Linked DNA regions of Homo sapiens. The protein of the gene in region 1 purifies or fractionates together with the protein of each later gene. This does not show direct contact. Each region holds a gene or a part of one and is shown on either strand. Other genes may lie near its edges.

Region 1 (3,500 bases):
GTTTGGTAATTTTTTTTTTTTTTTTTTTTTTTTTTTTTGAGATGAAGTCTTGCTCTCTTGCCCAGGCTGGAGTGTAGTGGTGTGATCTCGGCTCACTGCAACCTCTACCTCCCAGGTTCCACGGATTCTCCTGCCTCAGCCTCCCGAGTAGCTGGGATTACAGTCGAGCACCATCACACCTGGCTTATTTTTGTATTTTTAGTAGAAATGGGGTTTCGCCATGTTGGCCAGGCTTGTCTCAAACTCCTGACCTCAGGTGATCTGCCTACTTCAGCCTCCCAAAGTGCTGGGATTACAGACGTGAGCCACTGGGTAATTTTATATTTGCCTTTCTCCACACCTCTGTATTGGAAGCTTTTTTTTTTTTCTTAATGGCAATGAGTGTTTTGAAGCCACATCTACTCTGTAGTTTAACCATTCTCACTGTAGCCATTTCCACAGGACAGATAAAGCAAGATGTGTGTCTTGGCCTGTAAAGTTTCACGTGATCTGAGGGCTCCCTCAGCATGGATGCTGTTAACAAACGTGGTGCCCGCCCACCGCAACACACAGACACATAACTGTGTGGTAAGCCTTTGCAGAGGCCAGCGAATGGGCCCTGCAGCTCAGGCCCTGGTGGGCCTTGGCCTCAGCACTGGGGATGCCACTACCCCGTCAAAACCTGTAGCTGGCTCCTTCTAGAATGTGCTATCACCCTGCCCTCAGCCTCTGAGCACAGTGAGGGCTGTATGTCCCCACTGGACAGTGCAAGTGGCCTGGGGGTGTGTCAGATGGGGAGGTTAAAGTCACACAGCCCCAGACCGCAGAATCAGGACTGGAACCCAGACCTCACTGGCTCTGATTTGTGTAGAAACCCCTGGAAGCTGCCTGGAGCAGGGCAAGGAGGGTTGAGCAGCTGGTTCACTGCTGCTCCTGGCCCATGTTTTAGGTGTTGTGGGGGCATCTTACAGAGCTCTTTTGGGAATCCCCCTCTGCTCCCTGTGTCCCTGGGCCCTTGTCGGGTGACAAGCGGCGCCCAAGAACTCTCAGACCAAGGTCCTGGCCTTAAGTGACTCCAGATCTCGGGGAGACACAGCCAGACACAGCCAAGCCAGTCCTGTGAGGTCAGGCTGGGGACATCCAGAAAGGTGGCAGCCTTGGGGGCCGGGATAGTGTTGGTGCAGGCAGGGCAAGGTTGGCTAGGCAGGGGCTGCCACAGAGATGGGCACCACAGCAGTCAGAGCACAAGTGCCGGAGCAGACGGCTGAATGGCCACAATGGGCTCAGGTGAGGGTCCAGGGGCCCAGAAGAGCTTGGGATGCCCTGTCCTGAGCCTGTTAGGCTAGAGTGTCCACAAGAGCGGGACACCCCCCAGGATCACTCAAGTCTTCAAAACCAGATTCTGTGGGGTACCCCAAGCTGGCATTGGGGGAACCTACCCAGGAGCGCTGAAGGAGGACTCTCCTTCCCCAGGCTGCTTTCAGACAGAGGTCCTTGGCTTTCTACAGGGAGCCCAGCCAGGCTCACAATAAGCCAGGCCTAGCGGAAGAGAGCAGTTTTTCTTGCTCTGAGGTTTCAAAAGGGCTTGGTGAATTTTAAAAAGCTCCAAGACCCACCTGGAGCTCACTTTCAAGGTGCAGCTACAGGGCAGTGTAGAGTTGTTGGGCTTTGTGTCTCAGGAGGAGCATCTCTGCACTCTGGAGAAGTATCTGGTGGCGTCAAAGCCAGGTCTCAGGAGTTGGTTTTGGGGATGTGTCCATCTTGGCTTCCCAAGTGCTCCCTGGGCTGCCAGGAGCCATCATCTAGGGAATTTTCCAGGTCTTACCTGAACCCCACATCCAGGCTTACAGGGCTTTGAGTCCTCGGTCCAGACAGGGTCAGTCCAGCACTGCTGGTCGCCTGTGTAGCACAGGCTCCTGTCTGCCGTCTCCAGGCCCTTGCCATAGCAACAGGGATGGGCATTTATGGGCCCTGATGGCTCTTACTGAGCTCTTCCTGCCACATCCTGAGGATGCTAGGGCTGCAACTGGGGTGGCCCTGTGCAGTCACAAAGCAGGGAGTCCGGATTGGAGGATTCTTACATGCTGGTGCCCCCAGAGCCCCTGCGTGTCTGCGGGGGCCTCCCATGAGAGCCAACTCAATTGTGGAAGACAAACCGGAGGGGCTGCTGCCCTTCTCAGAACCTGAAACCTGGAACCCTATATGAATCTGCATTTCTGATCAGCCCCCATTGTGGGTCTAGGGCTAACGGCCATCAGTGCTTTTTCTCTGCTTGAACAGGTAGAAGCCCCCAAAGTTGTCCATTGGCCATGCCCCTGTGAGGGCATGAGCCAGAAGTGAGGGCAGTTTGTTTTTCAGTGATACTTCAGAGAGGGCCATTTGAGATGGGCTCTGAGGTAAGCATAGGAGTTCACCAGACGCAGAAGGAGGTCACAACCTGGGCTGGGTTCAGTAGGTGGGTTCCAGATTATCCCCACCCCAACCTGGGCTGGGTTCGGCAAGTGGGGTCCAGGCTCCTCACTCCCCCTTGCTGCTCTTGGTTGACAGGAGAGTAACAACATGGTGGTGCCTGCCATGCAGCTCGCCAGCAAGATCCCGGACATGTCGGTACAGCTGTGGTCGTCAGCACTGCTGAGAGGTGAGTGCAATGGCCACCCCTCTTCCCCAGCCCCAGCCTGGCCCTCCCCAGAGATCAAGGCTGCTGGGCATGTCCTGCTCAGCCTTAGCTCGGACTAGGCCTCCGTGGGCCGCAGCCCCAGTTCTAGCATGGGTAGGGGGTGCTCCTCAGGAGACCCTGGTTGAGGGCAGTGGGTGCATTTGTGGCATCCGCTTGACTCGGGGTCTGGTTCAGTCTCTATAGGACACAGAGGCTGCGACTTGGTATCTGGTAGACTTGGGCTGTTAGCCGTGGCGCTCTCAGCCTTGCTTCTTCCCGGAAAGGCAGACAGCAGCCATACCTATTGGGTAGGGCTGGCCAGCTAGCTCTGGGAGCAGGGCGGGCACTCAGCGGGTATCATTGCTGTTACCGCAGCTCCCCCATTTCCAGATTACGAAACTAAGGTCCGGAGACTCGCCTGGGGCCCTGGGGAGGTGACAGGAGACGGGGTGCTCCATGTGCAGTGGGCTGCCTGGGGCTGCTGCCTCAGGATGGGCATTGGGCGTCCTGCCCCAATGAGCGCCTGTTTGCCTGAGGGCTGGCCATGGGCTCCCTGGAGGGCTGGCGAGAAGCCTGGCATTGGGCTTTCACTGCCCAGCCAGCCCTGTTCTGCCCTATGAGGGCGGCTGGCGCATGGGCTTTGTGATCCCAAGACAGGGCTCAGGTCCAGTGACGTGCCAGGCACCCAGAGATCCACCAGTGCAGCTGGGACTTGACCTTAGGGCTCCATCTGCACCGAGTGGGAGGGCCTGGGCAGTGACAGGGCAAGGCGGGCCCCCATGCTCATGTCCCACTCTCAGACCTGAATAAAGCCTGTGGGAACGCCATGGATGCCCATGAAGCCGCCCAGATGCACCAGAACTTC
Region 2 (3,500 bases), on another chromosome or scaffold:
TACTTTCACAATCAGAAAGTCTTCGTCTATTTTTTTGTGATTTGGGTCTGATCTGCCTTTGCATCTGAAGTTCTTGACTAGTCAGAAGTTTCTTATTATTTCTGACAGACAGGTTCTGAGGAGAAATTAATTTAGTCTTTTTTCGGGTATCAACTACTCCAACAGTTTTGCCATGATCACGTAATTGAGCTACATAATCCAAAGACCGCTGGGACAACTCATATGCCTTACGAGGACCCTTTTTCAGGCCAAGTTTCTCAGCTGTTGAAGTTGGCTCAGGACACTGACGAAATTTCTTTGGCGGCACTATAGCAGGAGTTGTTCTACAACTTAGGTAATTTGAACTTCTATTCTGTCCTTTTTTGGCATCTGAATGAGTTTTCTTAGGGGTCTTAGAAACTGGAACTTTCCTGATGGGTTCTGTACAAGTACAAAGCTTTGAAGACTTCTTTTGTGAAACCGTAGTGGCTCTCTGAATACGTGAATTGGGAGTTGAAGTCCTTCTATCAATACTTTTAAAATCATTTCCCACAAGATCTCTCTTATTAGTATCAGACTGGCCCTCATTTCTGACAGAAGATGAAGGCCTCACAGGATCTTCAGCCATTGGTTTTTCAGATCGTTTTCTCTTAGGCTTTTTTACTTCAATTTCACAAAATTCTTCAACAGAAATACTCCGTGGTCTTGTGTGTTCTTCAATGCCCTCTGCTCCTTTTTTAACAACTTCAGATACATAATCTGTACAACCCTGACCATTTGTAGTATTGGCTATAGGAGCCAAACATTTTTTCTCACCATCTTGAACTGAATTATTATCGTCTGGATGATCTTGCCAAACTGAAAACACTTCAGATGAACTTTCAAACTCAAAACACTGAGAATCAGATTCCTCAAACTGAAAAAGAGTCTCTGTCTTTTCTTCCTTTACTGGATTCTTTTCCTCCTTACTATTAACTGTTGAAACGTGCTGCTCTGGATGTTCCCTCTCAAGGCATATTTTGTCCTGTTTAGTGAGTTTCTCAAGACTCAGGATTCTTTCATCATCATCATCATCAGAATCTGAAATAATAATAACCTGTCCACGGGAGGTATCTCCAACATTATTTTGGTTAGCTGTGAAACATCTTTTATCTTCTTTTACTTTCCTTTGCAGCTGCGATGAGTTCTGAGGTGAATCGGATGGGAACGTAATAACACTGGCTTGAGCTAGTAAAGATAATTTGTGAAGGTCTCTGTCTATCTGAGAATCCGTTAAGGTGTCAGATTTAGGACTGATGTCAGGGGCCTGTTCTCTTGTCAAGTTAGAATAAATCACACTGGTACTATTACTCATCTCCTCATCTCTTGATTCAGGTACAGTCATAAGATCTTTAAAGGGAGATGATTTCTTCTCTGAAGCATTGGTCATTTCTGTAAAAGGGATCAATTCTTTACCATCAACATGAAATTCCTGTATTTTACAATTGTTTTCATGGAAAGAGAAAATAACTAATTCTTCATTCTTTAATTGTTTCTCTTTTGGCAATACATTGTTTTGAGATTTTTGTTCTCCATTCTTATCATCCAGAACACCACTAGGGTCTAAAGAAAGATTGTGTATGAAACCATCTCCTTTCTGAACTCCTGTATCTTTCCTTGAATAGAAACTCTCAATGTTAGATACAGTCAAATTTTCATCTAAATTGATAGTATTATCGACCAAAGTACTCTTCCTGTGTTGCTTCTTTATTACATGTGATAACTTTGCACAGATTTCATCTTTCTGTACCTTAGTTTTTCGTTTTGAGGTTTTAGCAAGAGCATCATCCTTTAAAGAGAAATCTTCATTCGATGTGGACACTTTTTCCAAAGCATCAGTGCTAGAATCAGTCAACAAACGTGTTGATACTATTATTCCTCTGTCACATCCCCTTTCTGGACCATTTCTTGAAGTACAGTCCTTTGGTGTATATGAAGAGATCTCTTTTACAGACTTCTGCTTCCTTGTACTTATTTTAATTTGATCTTCAGCTCTTTCAGTAAAAATGTTTTTACTACTCTGCTTTAAGCATGACCCAGCTAAGAGATGGTCCTCTAGTTTCACATCCTTTATATAATTTTGCTCATTATTGTCACCTTCTATAGTGTTATCTGCTTTGATCAATACACTGTCTTGCACTTTCATTGGTTCTTTAGAAAATGTTGGGCTGGAAGCTTCCAAACAATGCATATCTTTTCTAGACGTCTTCCCCATTTGTTCACTTTCTTCTTTATTATAAGATGCAGGAGAGATTTTACATGCAGAAGTCAGATCCACAAAAGTGTTACATGGAGGTGCTTTGAATTTTATGTTTCTAATAATTTGCTTTAAGCAACTTTGTAGCTCATGGGTTTCCTGACTAGTCAACTGCCAACCTAGAGATAAATTTCCTCTAAGGAATAAGTTGAGCTTATCCCAGAATCGCTTGCAAAGAGACTGCTGCCCAAGCTGATAACCTTCTTTAAGGAGACTTCTAATCAGCTGCACATAAGCAAGTTGTACAGAGTTAGATGGCATGGAATGCAATGACAGTGAAGATATCATTGCTGTTCCTTTGGAGCAATTTCCAGATGATTTCTCAGAACTCCGTGTAAACGCAGTGGTAGGAAGCTTGGCACATTTGACGACGGCTTCCACCCATTGCTGGGAACTTACCCACAGCAAATGCAAACATTTTTTATTTCTATGCAGTTCAATCACTGATACCAAAATTAGAAGAAAAAATTCAGTGACTTTGTCACACACAGCATCTGTTTGGTTGAGGACTTCTTTGACTTCAGAGTACAGATGATTAACAACCTGTGCTATGTAAGCCACACCCAAATCCTTAAGATCCATGAGGGACTGGACAAAAGGGATGAACCATAGAAATGTGCTGTTATGAACACGCATGTCTTGACCAATATCTGACTGAAGTACACTGGCTAATGTTTCCATTTCTTCATACATGTTAGGACAATAATCTGGGCAAATGGCTGTTCTCCATCCAGAATCCTAAAATGAAAGAAATGCTGATGTTCAGATAAATAAGCACCACTTATGACAGGTTCAACACCCAAGTCGTTAAGAAAAATACGTTTCTCAACTCTCTTATTTTGGTTTACCACATCATTATTATGCTATACAATGGTATAATTGTGGCATATAATTATATCACAATCGTAATACACCTAACTCCCAAGAAAGTGAAAATATAAATTGAATTTTGAGTTTTCATAAAAAGACAAATTGGTAACACCTTTATGTACTCTCACCTTCTGTCCACTAGCTAGTTTTGATTTCTAGTCATGCCATGTATGTCCCCATAAACTTTCCATCTTCCCTAAATGTACTTATAAGTTAATTTTCCAAAGTATGCATACTGTAGTTAGAGTCCATCTTCCCCAACACACAATACATCTGCTGTTCAATGAGAAGGGCTTTTACATAGCAGTAGATTGAGAACAGCTACATATCACAAAATCTGCAACTCAACAAATTA
Region 3 (3,500 bases), on another chromosome or scaffold:
ATTTATGATCCACCCTCCTCAGCCTCCCAAAGTGCTGGGATTACAGGCGTGAGCCACCACGCCCGGCCTTTTTGTTTTTTTTGAGACAGGGTCTCACTCTGTCACCCAGGCTGGAGTGCAGTGAGTGGTGTGATCTCTGCTCACTGCAGCCTCCACCTCCTGGGTTCAAGTGATTCTCCTGTCTCAGCTTCCCAAGTAGCTGGGATTACAGGGTATGCCACCATGCCTGGCTAATTTTTGCATTTTTAGTACAGACCAGGTTTCACCATGTTGGCCAGTCTGGTCTCGAACTCCTGACATCAAGTGATCCACCCGCCTCGGCCTCCCAAAGTGTTGGGGTTACAGGCGTGAGCCACTGCACCTGGCCTAATTTTTATATTTTTAGTAGAGATGGGGTTTCACCATGTTGGCCAGGCTGGTCTTGGACTCCTGACCTCAAGTGACCCATCTGCCTCACCTCCCAAAGTGCTGGGATCACAGGCGTGAGCTACCACACCCAGCCTGATATATGGAGTTTTGATAGTGGTGCCAGTCACCTTTTTGATCACTTTTTCCCCTTAAATTTCCAAATTCTGCTTTTAACTTTGTTGTTTGTTACCCTTTCCTCATGGCAGGGAAGAGGAGGAAGATGCAGAAATAAAGGAAGTAGACTTCAGTCAGAGAGAGGGAAAGAAACAGCATGATATAAGAGTTTATCAAATACCAGCTGTTTTGTGGTTTGGTAAGGAGGAAATAACTGGAAAAAAAAAAAAAAAAAAACACCCAAAACCAAGAGAGGACATTTTTTTGAAACAAGAGTCTTTGTTGCATTAACATCTTAGACAGTCTTTTAAAAAATGTAGACCTAAGGGCGGGGCATGGTGGCTCACACCTGTAATCGCAACACTTTGGAAGGTCAGGCTGGAGTTTGAGACCAGCCTGGGCAATATAATGAGACCTCATTTCTACAAAAAATTTAAAAATTAGCCAGGTATGGTGGCACGCGCCTGTAGTCCTAGCTACTTGGGAGGCTGAGGTGGGATTGCTTGAGCCTGTGAGGTGGAGATTTCAGTGAGCTGAGATTGCGCCACTGCATTCTAGCCTGGGTGACAGAACAAAACTCTGTCTCCTCTCCTCGCAACCTGCCCCCCTCCCCCCGCCAAAAAAAAGTAGGCCTAACAAAGGATGGAAATCTTTTTACTTGTCTTAGTAACTTAATTTTTTTTGTTTTAATGAGACATTTTGAGATTTACCTGTTTGTGTCATTTTTAAAAATCTACTACAGTATTAAGTTACAGAATTTTCAGAAAGTTATCATTCAGATGTGATTTCATGTCTTTTGTTTTTGTTTGTTTTAGACAAAAGAAGTTAGAAAAGGTGATGGAAGAAGAAGGCCTAAAAGATGAGGAGGTAATTAATATTGGCAATGTTTTCCTTAAAACCCAGCGTGGCAGGTTGTATCTTGTCCAGTGAGTTGTTAGCCTTGGTACACATGAGAAGGGTTTTGGCTCAATAACAGAGGAACTTGAGGGGTAGTGTGCTTCCGGATTTGGGTGTTAATTCAGAGGGACAGATTAATTATTAAGTACCTAGGAGAGGAAGGCTTCTCTAGATGCAGTTATAGTAAACTAGATTTAGAATTCCAAGAGAAAGCAGGGATGAAATCAAATTAAATTTTAAAAGAGCAAGTTGTAGCATTTTTATAGAATTCACTGAAAAGTCTCCGTAGGAGTAGGGCAAATTTTTGAAATATTTATTTATTTTACTTTTTCTGGGATACATACGTGTGCTGAACATGCAGGTTTATTACATAGGTATATATGTGCCATAGTGGTTTGCTGCACCTATCAACCTGTCATCTAGGTTTTAAGCTCCGCATGCATGAGGTATTTGTCCTAATGCTCTCCCTCCCTTTCCCCCCATGCCCCGACAGGCCCCGGTGTGTCATGTTCCTGAAATCTTTATTAAGGCAAAATATCCATCTCAAATCAGCCCTTCCACCCAGTGCCCACAGATACAGTAGGAGAAAATATAGTTAACAAGGGACTGTGCAAGGAACTGAAATGGTAGTGGAAATGCCTTCAAAAATAGGACTGGCTTGCAGAACCCAGGACGGTGGTGAAAAATACCCAATACTTGTAGAAATAACAGAAAGTTAGAGTATACAGTGTTTAAGCCAGAGGGAAAGATAAGAACACATTTTTAATTTATATTAAACAGGATAAAGGAAAATATTGTTGATTATTTATCCCTCCCTTCACCAAAAATGTTAGGATAGTGGATTGCTGAAGTAGGTTAGTCAGAGTTCCCAGAGGAGGCACCCATCTGTTCAGTGTGGCTTGGATGTTGTGTCTAAATGCCAGGAAAGGGAGAAGTGACCTCTTAAGGATCCTTCTGGGGTGATTTCATATGTGAAAAGATTATCCTTAGTCCACTTGGACCTGTTTTCTAGCTGGGTAAGTCACAAACATGACTTGTTACAGAGTTTCAGAATTTCAGTTCCTTCCCGTCTCCTCCCTTTTTTATTTAAATATTAGAAACGACTCCGGAGATCAGCACATGCTCGGAAGGAAACAGAGTTTCTTCGTTTGAAGAGAACAAGACTTGGATTGGAAGATTTTGAGTCCTTAAAAGTAATAGGCAGAGGAGCATTTGGTGAGGTAAAAATCACAGCTACTTGTCAAGTAGAAAAATATTGCAAAACTTCAAAGCTTCTAACATACCATTAAGTCATGATTGTTGATATAACAAATATATGGAATTAAATGAGTCAGGCATGCCAGCCCCACATCCTAATTGCTTTGTCTGTCTGCTTTCTCTTTTTCTTCTCTCCGCAGTCCCAGATCTCTGTTCTCTGTTTTGCCAGAGATGGTGTTGGTGTTTAAATATTGACTTAGGGGGAGAGTTGAAAGGTAGAAGGAAATCAACATTTATTATTTACAGGCTGCTTTTTTCCCATAATCAGGACAGTAACCCATTTTATAGATGGTGAAATTAAGACTCTAAAGGTATATATAATGTCTCTTGTTATCACACAGCCATTGAGTACTGGGACCAAAAGTTGGGCTCTACTTCCTGAACTCAAAGAGCTTGCTTTTCCCAGTACTGCACTGCCTCTCGAGAAGGAAACTAATAGTGTATCTCCACCCTTTATTTCTCCCCACCAGATTGATACAGCTCTAAAAAGATGACCCTAGGAGGGAGGATTTACAGAAAGGAGTTATATAGGTAGTGGTGGAGAGTTGAAAGCATTTGCGACTTTGTCCCCGCAATTCTTGGAAATGATCCTGCTTGGGCACAAGAGCAATCTGTTGGGGAGAGCTTGAAAGAGCCCATGCAAGGTCATTCCTGTTAATGAAAAATGCCCAAACTGGATGACCTACTGACGCAATAATTGCAAGTATAAAAGGAGCAGTATATTATTAAAACCTGGTACCCCGGGGCCAGGCACGGTGGCTCACTCCTGTAATCTCAGCACTTTGGGAGGCCAAGGCGGGCGGATCACAAGGTCAGGAGTTCGA
Region 4 (3,500 bases), on another chromosome or scaffold:
GAATATCACAGGAATCCATTGAATATCACAGGAATCCATGAGATCATACCGACATAAATAAATGAAGTTTGATAAGAAATGGGGTGAAAATTGCAGAATACCACAGTATTGCCCTACAAAATGTATATTAATTACAAAAGAAAAAAGTAACTACTGTGCAGAAGGCTGGCAGACACTCCCTCAATGGAGTGATCATAATCAATATTAAGTGATCAGAGTTGACACCTGTCACCATAATGGGACAAACTAATACCACGTGCTACCTGTTTGGATACAGTGAGAACACAGCATCAATTTGGTGGTATTCCTACCAAAGATGCACAACCTGAAAATCATCATATGAAAACATCAGAGACCCACATTAGGGAGCAGTCTACAAAATTGGGGGTGATGGGGCATCATGTTGGCAATTTACTCTCAAATGATTCAAAACAGAAAGACATTTGTACTGTACTTGGGAACTTTTCTTTAGGTTGGAGATTCTTTCCAATTTTAAAAAGTTAATGAGAAGAGTGACCTTGAGTCATTGTAGGTTTGATGGAAGCCAAGTGTCAAGATAAGATTAAGATATGGATGGACCAAGATAAGTGTCAACAATTATCCTTTAGGGTAACGATTCTTAAATTTTCTCTGGTGAAGCATCAGTTTTTCCCCACCAGTCCATTATGAAGCAATAGTTTTGTAAAATACAAAAATCCCACGCTTGGATTTCAGGACAATATCACATTGCAATAGGAGTTTTCAAATGCTTACTCTCGATGTCTGAACTTAGAATGAACCAGTAGCAAATGATTCCTGGACTAGCTTGGACCACGCTTTGAGCAGCGTTTTCCATAGCTGAAGATCTGTGGATCCCTGATTGCTATCACATTCACATGGAAAATAAAAACAACTGGTCACACTGTTATCCATATGGTAGCAATAATAATTAGCACTCTAATTAACATCAACCATCTATACAAAGTATTCAAAAAAGGGACCACCCAGGCAATATGAAGGGATTAAAGACCTGCCTTTGTGAAGAGTAATTCAACTTTTCCAAATGGGTCACATGACAAGAACAGATGCGTCCACTCCTGATTCCAAAGTAGTTGCTTTGTGGTGACTTAAGAAGAAAAACCCAGTTACACGGAAGATGAACAAAAGCATTTTGCATGGACCAGTCTGCAATGCCATGCCATGACTATCATTGCTGGGAAGGAAACCAGCATTCAGAAGGGGTTAGTTAGTAGAGGACAACTCCCAAATCAGATGGGTTTAACTAGATACTGAGGGTCAAGCTACTGATTCCAACATAGTCCACACATGGGTCCACTCTGGTTCTATGCCACAAACAGCCTCTCCTTCAGACAAGAGGCAGGCTTTCAAGTAAAAGAGAACAATTCTTTATAATAAACCAAGGCCAAAGCAGAACAACAAAGAAGGAGCTATTGCATCCTCTGGAAAGTGGCAAACTCCATGCAAGCTCAGGGTTCTTCTAGAGGACACTCTTGACACTTTTGTTGCATGTCCCTGTATGCTGGAATTCTCATGCCAGTGTCCCCCCAACACTTATTCCAGACACACACAGAGGAGGCTCCACATAGAAACCCATGAGCTGGAATCAACAACAACAGACTGCTGTGGCATCTGTCTCTCATGTGAGGCACCTCACTTACCTGGAGCAGTTTTGTAGCATGTTCTGGAGGGCAGTGATGGGGCATTCTTTGTCCTGGGGCTCTGCGTACTCTGCAAGACTTGTCTCTGCCTCTTCAGCTCCTCTTCCCTTTCCTGAGCTGCTCGGATCTCTTCCTCAATCATGGACAAAGTCCGCTGTTTCCTGGACCTCAGCTTGAAAGGCCCAACCATCACGTCAGATTCTTGAGTGGCCAGGAGGGAGGCTGTGCTTCTCAGCTCAGCTGCCTCCGAGTACTTGCTGAAATAGCTTCCTTCGGGCCTGGTCTCCTCCATGTTAATCGGGCCACTGGGCTGCACAGCTGGCAGTGGCTGGGGGGGCCCCCTTTCCCTGAGCGCCCTGTCTTCAGCAGGCAGAATCTTTGGTAATACATCCCTTTTCTCTTGAACAGGAGAAGACACCTGAGGTGGCTCAAACATGCTCTGAGGCTTTTCTGAGCCGAAAGCCGCAGCTTCAGCTTCCTCTACAGTCGCTTCAGGTCCCTGTTGCTCTGCTCCATCCCTGCTGGTTTTGGACACAGCTTTATCCACCTGCTCGGCTATGGCTTGTTGAATGGCATTCTGCACCAGGAGGCCAGCCTGATACTCCAAGGGGTCATCAACCAACGGAGAGTCCCCCAGCGTGGAGGAAGGGGAATAGAAACCATGATCACTAAATGACTTGGAGACGCCTTCTCCTCGGCCCTCTGAGGGGTTGTCAGTTTGTGGTGTCTGGGGCAGAGAAAAATCAGCCAGTGAATTTTCCTGGAGGGCATTGGTTGTCTCATTGGATGCCCCGCTGTCACTGATGTTGTCCATGCTGAAATCATTGGATAGGGTCTCCAGGACTGTGGTATCCTGAGACCTCACCGACAATTCGTCCAGACCAGAGTCAAGCTCCTCTTGGGTCAAGGAGACATTGACAGATCTTGAGAACTGATCCAAAATCCCATGGTCATCATCCTTGACCACAGTGAGGACAGCCCGGGCGCTCGTAAATTCTCCATCCTCAGCCCACAGTTTAGATAAGGGCCCACGTTTAGAAGGCTCGCTGTAGGGCCCTTCCTTCCCCTGAGAGGCTGTGTTGCCCTGGCTTCCTGCTGCCGATGGGGTCTCCAGGGCACCGGGGGATTTCTGTCCCTTGGCGGCTGAGGCACCACTGTCTTCTGGAGGTCCCCCGACAGAAGGTGGTCTCGGATTAGTCAGTGGCTTGTCTGAGTTGACTGACCCCAGAGGCCTGTAGAAAGGCTTGATGGAGAACAGCCTGGGTGTACTCTGGCCCTTGGCCACCGCTTGCCTGGAATTCTCCATCAGCTGAAATTGTTTGCGAGCAGCAGAGAAATCTATCTGCTCTGTGACAATGTCCTCCTTTGCTTTGTCAATCATGCTTGCGCGTTCATGAGAAGAGGCAGGGGCTGTGCAGAGCTGCGATGGGGGCTGCTGCTGCTGCTGCTGTAACTGCTTCTGCAGCAGCAACTGTTCCTGCTGTGCCCTTCTCTCTTTGCGCTCCTTGTACTTTTTGTGCGACTCCAGATGTTCCTCGTCCAGCTGCTCCTCGATGGTTTTTTCCTGCGGGGGATTCCACCATTTTGCTGCAATGCCAGGATTCTTCTTGACGGCCTGGCTGCGGATGAGCTCTCTCCTCTCCTTTTCCAGCTCCAGCATCTCCTCTGAAGGCCTCACTTTTCTAATGCAGTATTGTTCTTTCTCATGCTCGTCATCCTCAAAGAGCTTGGAGGGCTTCTTGTCCTCATGGAAGGCACGCAGCTCAAACTTGGCCTCCTTTTTCAGTGTGGTGAGAGTGAACTCTCCATCTCGGGAAGAACACCGTGAGCTGGTTGTGGAGC

The links. Proteins that work in one complex are often made in the same cells at the same time.
Region 2: the proteins of MAU2 (region 1) and SETX purify together in Homo sapiens (affinity purification with mass spectrometry, with the first as the bait; one large-scale study listed by BioGRID). This does not show direct contact.
Region 3: the proteins of MAU2 (region 1) and STK38 purify together in Homo sapiens (affinity purification with mass spectrometry, with the first as the bait; one large-scale study listed by BioGRID). This does not show direct contact.
Region 4: the proteins of MAU2 (region 1) and PALM2AKAP2 purify together in Homo sapiens (affinity purification with mass spectrometry, with the first as the bait; one large-scale study listed by BioGRID). This does not show direct contact.

What each region holds. Positions count from the first base shown.
Region 1 is NC_000019.10:19,351,829-19,355,328, forward strand, and holds part of MAU2 (MAU2 chromatid cohesion factor homolog), read left to right. Parts: intron 1-2,526; coding exon 2,527-2,617; intron 2,618-3,435; coding exon 3,436-3,500. UniProt on the Homo sapiens protein: Plays an important role in the loading of the cohesin complex on to DNA. Forms a heterodimeric complex (also known as cohesin loading complex) with NIPBL/SCC2 which mediates the loading of the cohesin complex onto chromatin.
Region 2 is NC_000009.12:132,327,487-132,330,986, forward strand, and holds part of SETX (probable helicase senataxin), read right to left. Parts: intron 3,014-3,500; coding exon 1-3,013. UniProt on the Homo sapiens protein: Probable RNA/DNA helicase involved in diverse aspects of RNA metabolism and genomic integrity.
Region 3 is NC_000006.12:36,523,480-36,526,979, reverse strand, and holds part of STK38 (serine/threonine-protein kinase 38), read left to right. Parts: intron 1-1,337; coding exon 1,338-1,389; intron 1,390-2,516; coding exon 2,517-2,639; intron 2,640-3,500. UniProt on the Homo sapiens protein: Serine/threonine-protein kinase that acts as a negative regulator of MAP3K1/2 signaling. Converts MAP3K2 from its phosphorylated form to its non-phosphorylated form and inhibits autophosphorylation of MAP3K2.
Region 4 is NC_000009.12:110,136,698-110,140,197, reverse strand, and holds part of PALM2AKAP2 (PALM2-AKAP2 protein isoform 3 (PALM2-AKAP2)), read right to left. Parts: coding exon 1,659-3,500; intron 1-1,658. UniProt on the Homo sapiens protein: Binds to regulatory subunit (RII) of protein kinase A. May be involved in establishing polarity in signaling systems or in integrating PKA-RII isoforms with downstream effectors to capture, amplify and focus diffuse, trans-cellular signals carried by cAMP.